Linked DNA regions of Homo sapiens. The protein of the gene in region 2 purifies or fractionates together with the protein of the main gene of each other region. This does not show direct contact. Each region holds a gene or a part of one and is shown on either strand. Other genes may lie near its edges. The genes, in order: RNF111 and SETD7.

What was found.
Region 1: the proteins of SETD7 (region 2) and RNF111 purify together in Homo sapiens (affinity purification with western blotting, with the first as the bait; one study listed by BioGRID). This does not show direct contact.

Annotation. Positions count from the first base shown.
Region 1 is NC_000015.10:58,994,019-58,997,842, forward strand, and holds part of RNF111 (E3 ubiquitin-protein ligase Arkadia), read left to right. Parts: intron 1-3,824. UniProt on the Homo sapiens protein: E3 ubiquitin-protein ligase. Required for mesoderm patterning during embryonic development. Acts as an enhancer of the transcriptional responses of the SMAD2/SMAD3 effectors, which are activated downstream of BMP.
Region 2 is NC_000004.12:139,546,205-139,550,028, forward strand, and holds part of SETD7 (histone-lysine N-methyltransferase SETD7), read right to left. Parts: intron 1,916-3,824; exon of another isoform or gene 1,815-1,915; intron 846-1,814; coding exon 716-845; intron 1-715. UniProt on the Homo sapiens protein: Histone methyltransferase that specifically monomethylates 'Lys-4' of histone H3. H3 'Lys-4' methylation represents a specific tag for epigenetic transcriptional activation.

The DNA.
Region 1 (3,824 bases), on a different chromosome or scaffold from region 2:
TTGTTGTTACTTAAATTTTTTTTTTTTTTTTTTTTTTTTAATGGAGTCTCACTCTGTGGCCCAGGCTGGAGTGCAGTGGCCCCATCTTGGCTCATTGTCACCTCCACCTTCCAGCTTCAAGTGATTTTCCTGACTCACCCTCCCAGGTAGCTGGGATTAGAGGTGCACGCTACCACGCTCAGGTTATTTTTTATATTTTTGGTAGAGATGGGGTTTCGCTATGTTGGCCAGGCTGGTCTCGAACTCCTGACCTCAAGTAATCCTCCCGCCTTGGCCTCCCAAAGTGCTGGGATTACAGGCGTGAGCCACCACGCCTGGCTACTTACATTTTTATTTTGACATAATTTCAAACTTACCGAAAGATTTAAAAAATAGTACTGAGAACTCTTGAATACTCATTATTCAGATTCACCAATTTTTAATGTTGTCACTCTTGCTTTCTTATTTTCTCTCTCTTTTTTTTTTTTTTTTTTTTTTGAGGTGGAGTCTCGCTGTGTTGCCCAGGCTGGAGTGCAGCAGTGTGATCTCGGCTCACTGTAACCTCCATCTCCCAGGTTCAAGCGATTCTCCTACCTCAGCCTCCTGAGTAGCTGAGATTATAGGTGCCCGCCACCACGTCCAGCTAATTTTTGTATTTTAGTTAGAGACGAGGTTTCACCCTCTTGGCCAGGCTGGTCTCAAACCCATGACTTTAAGTGATCAGCCTACTTCAGCCTCCCAAAGTGCTGGGGTGAGCCTTTGCGCCTGGCCCCTTATTCTCTCTTGAATCATTTAAAAGTAAATTGCTTACATTATGCCCATTACATTGCATTATGCCCATTTGTTTCTAAATATTCACTGTGTATTGTATTCTTTTGCGTTATCACTGCACCAGTTACAAAATTCAGAAAATTAAACTTTGATAATATTAATCTACAGCTCATTTTCCAGTTTTGTCGAATTGTCCTGATAATAGCATTTATCCCTTTACAGCATTTTCCTCATAGGACCCAGTTCAGGATCACAAAATGCATTTAGTTGTCATATCTCTTTAGTCTCCTGTAATGTGGAACAGTGCACCTAATAAGCAATCTGTGGGGATAACTTTGAGATAGTGCAGCTACTCTGCTCCTCATCAGATCATCCTGTTCCTCATCACTCCCCACATCCCCCAAGGCCCATGTAGCATCCATTGATGTTTCTTGCCTATGCTGATCTTTACTGATCTTTACTCTAATGGTTGGAAAGTGTTTATTTTGTAACTCATCCATTTTCTTCACTAATGGACATTCTTTTATAAGGAAGAGACATTCTTTTATCTGATTAATACAGAATTGTGTGTTTCCTGTTTTATTCAGTGGGTTAAATAACCCATTATAACCTTTATTTTGATGTTCAAATTGTCCCAGATTTGTCCATTAGGAGCCTTTCCAAGTGGGCTCCTGTGTCTTTTTAACATAACCTCTTGTTTTTTTTTTTTGACGGAGTCTCACTCTTGTCTCCCAGGCTGGAGTGCAGTGGCGCGATCTTGGCTCACTGCAACCTCTGCCTCCCGGGTTCAAGCAATTCTCTGCCTCAGCCTCCCAAATAGCTGGGATTATAGGCGCCTGCCACCATGCCCGGCTAATTTTTGTATTTTTAGTAGAGACGGGGTTTCACCATCTTGGACAGGCTGGTCTTGAACTCCTGACCTTGTGACCTCGTGATCCACCTGCCTCAGCCTCCCAAAGTGCTGGGATTACAGGCATGAGATGCCGTGCCCCGGCCTTTTTTTTTTTTTTTTTTTTTTTTAAGTATTTCCTGTCTTTCTGGCACAGCAAGATGTTGCAAGCACATCTTATTTCTTTCCTTTGTCAGTCTTGGAATGAGCCGTTTTCCATGGAACCCTGGTTCCTTTTAGTGAGCAATCCAATTTGCTGTTGTGTTATTTATATACAGGAATAATCTTTTTTTCATGCATCAGGACATCGCTAGGAAACTAAATTTAAATTAGATTTTTGATAGTAGGTTTATATTTCTTTGAAGATTTTATGAAGTAATCACGTAAGACTCAGCAACTTATTGTCATAAAGCAATTTTTTTCTTCTTTTCTTTTTCAAATACATAATGAGTTATGTTCTTAATTGTGATCATATGAAATGAGAAAAAATTGTGTGTGTATGTTTAGCCACTTAACTGTTTATTAAAAACCTGAAGTTTATACTTTTAACTATTTTTAACTAAGTCATCAAACATTCTAATCTGAAGAAAACTGTTGCTTTTTAAGAAACTTTAAAATGAGTTCAAAAAATTGGGCTGGGTGCGGTAGCTCATACCTATAATCCCAGCACTTCGGGAGGCCGAGGCATATGGATCCCTTGAGGCCAGGAGTTCAAGATCATCCTGGCCAACCTGATGAAACCCTGTCTCAACTGAAAAATGCAAAAAAAAAAAAGTAGCCAAGTGGGGTGGTGCATGCCTGTAATCCCAGCTACTTGGGTGGCTGGAGCAGGAGAATCGCTTGAACCTGGGAGGTGGAGGTTGCAGTGAGCCGAGATCATGCCACTGTACTCCAGCCTGGGCAGTAGAGCAAGACTCCATCTCAAGAAAAAAAAAATTAAAAAATTATGAAACAGAATTTTTGTATGTGATTGAAAACTCATCAGTACTTTCTTTTTTTTTTTTTTTTTTTTTTTTTTTTTACCCAGGCAGTTACTGTTACATCTTGGTATATTTCATAGCCAGTTTCTCACCTGTGTATGGATATTTGCTTTATTTACTTATTCAATCTAACTTAATGTGTGTTTTTTCAAAGTAATATTTTGAATATTTTAAATTTTCAACCAATTAATATCTGTACACGGTTTTAAAAGTCAGTTTCAAAAGACTTACAATGAAAAACAGTGGTTTCCTATGCAACTCTCCTAATCTCCTAGTTGTACTGCTTAAACAGAAACATTTTAGCTCTCAAAAATTATTTCTGTAGTCTATACCTTTATATTTATAAGTAGTATGCTTATATTTGTTTGTATTTACTTGTGTACTTATATTTCTACTAATATGCTTAATTTTTACTTAGTTTTCATGTCAGTTTAAGTGTCTTTTTTTAAGTTAATTTTTTCAGAGAAAAGTAATATATACAAAGTGTACCAAATTTATAAGGTACAAAGAATGTACAGGGAAAAAAAACAAGGCTCCTTGCCATTCTTATCTTCCTATGACCCAAGTCTTTTCTCTGAAGATGTATCTCTTTCCTCCTGTATTTTATATGTGCATCCAGAGTAGTGGTTCTCAGAGTGTGGTCTGTTGACTCTTGAGGTAGCTCTTCCAAGTGTTCAGGAGGTCTACCAGGTTGAAACTATTTCAGAATATTACCAAGTTCTCATTTTCTATGTAACTGATGTGAACACCAGTTGACATTTGCACTGATGGTGCAAAAAACAGTGGTGCATTAAACTAATGGCCCTGTAGCACAAATCAAGACAGTGGCCAAACTGCATTAGTAATCACTATGTTCTTCATGACTACACATTTGCAGTTAAAAAAAAAAAAAAAATCAGGGCTGGGTATGGTGTCTCACGCCTGTAATCCCAGCACTTTGGGAGGCTGAGGTGGCCACATCACGAGGTCAAGAGATCGAGACCATCCTGGGCAACATGGGGAAACTCCATCTCTACTAAAAATACAAAATTAGCAGGGCGTGGTGGCATATGTCTGTAATCCCAGCTACTCGGGAGGCTGAGGCAGGAGGATGGCTTGAACCCGGGAGGCAGAGGTTGCAGTGAGCCAAGATTGCGCCACTGCACTCCAGCCTGGCGACAGTGTGAGACTCCATCTCAAAAAAAAAAACAAAAACCCAAAAAATT
Region 2 (3,824 bases):
TATTAAATTATCACACAAAAAGACCAACTATCCCAAAGACAGGCATTTAAAAAATTGAAGTCTAGAGAGTTGCCCTCCTGTGTGTACCTGTTTATGTCTTATTACTGGGACTGCAATGATGTGGCTTTGAAGAACTTTGCCAAGCATTTTTTCATCAATCTCATGAGGAGAGGCAACAAGCTGAGAAACCGATGAAGCAGAAGAACCAACAAGGTGGCAGAATCTTGCTTCGGGGTACTAAGATGCCAGATTGTGACATCTGGGAGAGTGTGCTGAACGCAATAGAGTGTGTGTGACCCTTGGAAAAAAGTGTGAATCTGACTTTACTGGAACTGTGCAAACTGGCCACTGACAAAAACGATCCCCACTTGTGTGACTTCAGGGAGATGCGCTACCGGAATGATCAAGTGAAATCCATCAAAGAATTGGGTGACCATGTAACCAACTTATGCAAGATGGGGGCCCCCAAATCTGGTATCTTTTGGCCAAGCACACTCTGGGAGACAGTGATGACAAGAGCTAAGCCTTAGGCTGGCTGTCCCATAACCACAGGGTGACTTCCCCAGTCACCAAAGCAGTGCCTACAGGTAGGGGTTAATTTTACCCATTGAATAAATTGTAGAAAAACTTCCACTTGAATTCTTTCGTTTGTATTAGTCCTTAACATAAAATAATTCGGTACCCCCAAAGAACAAAATAAAACTGTGAGTGCTACCTGCCATCAAAGAAGAAGAACTTCCCCCGTCCGTTCTTTTCTCCGTGAACAAAGTTCCCCTCAAATCTGTCTGTGGAGGAGTAGGTGACTGTGCAGAACCCGTGCGGTAATCCGTCATCGTCCAGGTGCCCTGGAGAAAGGGAACCACAAGGCAAACCTTAACATCTTCAGTGCTCCTCCCATCTGACGTCTAAGCATTCAGATGCTGCCAGACAAGTCCCCCACCCAACTCCCCTCCAGCTGCCAAAGGGTCCCCTCCCTGGAAAGAAAGGGTAGTCAGCGTGCAAAAGTTTCTCACCTCATCGGCACCAGCAGTACCAAATTGATTGTTATGTACACTTTGTGAACTGATAGGTCCAGAACAGACTTAGACACATTCCAGAATATGAACTTTAAATAAGCTTGCTTTTTACCTGGAACTGAGAGTCATTATCAGTAATATTATCTGCAGGGCATGTCACAATTTACCAAGTACTCTCCCGAGAGTCCTCATATTTGGAATTGATGCCTCCAATCTCTCATGCTTAACTGAAGTGTGGTTGAGATTCCACTGTTTTATAGTCAATTGCCACATACACAGTCTTTGGAATAAATTATCTAATTCTAGAACATTAAGTATGCAATATGATTTTATACATCATTCTATAATATGATGTGGAGGACTGCTAGCCAGTCTGAAAATCTCACTGTTATTGTTATATTCACACAAGGAACAGTGTCATATCTTTAAAACTGCCCTAAGATTTATATAGCTCATTGTACAAACACAGAAACCCAGAGTCCTTCTCACCTTAAACTTAAGCTTAACCTTAAACCTACTGGTTTACTTTACAAAATCTTTCAGCTTTGAATGTTTAGTAATAACCTTATCCTATACCGTCCACCACTGTGTCTCAGAGGGCTTGTGTTTTAAATGGAGCCAGAGTATGCACATGGTCATTTAAGCAATGATTGTGAACATCAGCAGAAGTTATTACATGGACTTTTAAGTCACTGGTTATTCCTAGGTCAAAGATTGGTATAGTTTAATACTGACATTTACAGTCAATGTTTATGCTTTTTATTACTATCTACATGTTTTACAAAACCCAGGAATCACCTTATTGGTGTCTTCCCAATCATTCTGGTGAGCTGATTTTGCAGAGGTGGGTGAAAATGAAGGCAGTAGTTATTCTACTGGCTTTTTCTTGGGGTAATAACCTGGGTCATGGAGAGAAAAGGTATGAAAACATTAAACACTGTGTCTAATGCAGGGACATTAAACATTGAAATGTAGCTTCCAGATGGCTCACAGACATAAAAGGCAACACAAACCATACTACCACAGTGAAAGCTTTAGTCTCCTCAAATAATTTATTCTAACATGATAAAAGAATATTAGCCCTTGGAAAAGATGGTAAGTACACACTCTTATAAAGAATAAATATGCGGCCGGGCATGGTGGCTCACGCCTATAATCCCAGCACTTTGGGAGGCTGAGGTGGGTGGATCACCCTAGGTCCAGAGTTTGAGACCAGCCTGGCCAACACAGTGAAACCCCGTCTTTACTAAAAATACAAAAAATTAGCCAGGCATGGTGGCGGACGTCTGTAATCCCAGCTACTCAGGAGGCTGAGGCAGGAGAATCGCTTGAACCCAGGAAGCAGAGGTTGCAGTGAGCCAAAATTGTGCCACTGCACTCCAGCGTGGGCAACAAGAATGAAACTCCATCTCAACAACAACAATAAAAAGAATAAATATGCTCTTTATTTGTATCATTAATTACATAAACATAAAATAGCTGCAAACAACTACAGTGTTTTATTGCTACATCTGACTCTGTATACAATGGGTTACCTAGAACATCTTACAATAAGACACATCTACTTAAATAAATCATAATCAATATGGATCCCTTCCTCTTAACACAAAAGAGGAAAGGCCCAGGAAATTAATGGTCAGAAGGGAACTAGGCCATAATTGCTTTCTTCTCGCTCAAAAACTAATTGTACATGACATAAATTCAATGACATTTGAGTCATATGAAATCACTTGGACAATTATTTTCTAAATATCTGATGCCATTTCTCTCATTGAAATAAATTAAATTTGCTTTTTTCTTTTCATTAAAAAAAGCCACTCAGTGTATTGCTAAGAGCTTTTTTTAGTGAAATGTTGTTGCGATCAAGTTAAATTTAGGCATATAAATTCAGTGTCCTACTTTTGATTTAGGTATTAATATCCAAATAATCAGTTTAGCCTCATACTAGAGCATTTATTAACTTGTTGAAAATGCTTTCACCATAGAAAACAGTTCACATATTTCAGAGTTTTAAAAGCTTATGTTTGATAAAATGTGTTATTCCACTTTAGATTGAGAGAATTACAATAAATCTGAACACTAAGAAAAAAATGTCCAATATAAATTAATTTCCACCTTCCTTCAGCCCTGTGCTATTTCTGAATAAAACACTGAAGGTGCACCCTCAGCAATGGAATTTAGATATTAGGGAAAGTTGAAAGTGTCATATAACATACTGTAAGCCCTTGGAGGATAGTACTGATCCCAGTTGAGATGACAACAAAAATGTCAACTCCACTCCATGAAGAATTATTCCTTCCTTCCTTCCTCCCTTTTTGCCTCCCTCCCTCCTTCTCTCCTTTTCTTCCTTTCTTACCTCACTCCCTCCTTCCCTCTTTCTCTTCCTCCTTCCTTTATTTTTTAGAGACAGGGTCTCACCCTGTTACTCAGGCTGGAGTGCAGTGATGAGACCATAGTTCACTGTAACCTCAACTTGTAGGCTCAAGTGATCCTTCTGCCTCAGCCTCCAATGTAGCTGGGACTATAGGTAGACATCACCACAACTGGCTAATTTAAAAAAAAAAATTTTTTTTTGAGACAGAGTTTTACTCTTTTTGTCCAGACTGGAGTGCAATGGTGCGATCTTGGCTCACTGCAACCTCCGCCTCCCGGGTGCAAGCAATTGTCCTGCCTCAGCCTCCCTAGTAGCTGGGATTACAGGCACCTGCCACCAAGCCCAGCTTATTTTTTTGTATTTTTAGTAGAGATGAGGTTTCACTATATTGGCCAGGCTGGTCTCGAACTTCTGACCTCAGGCAATCTACCCAC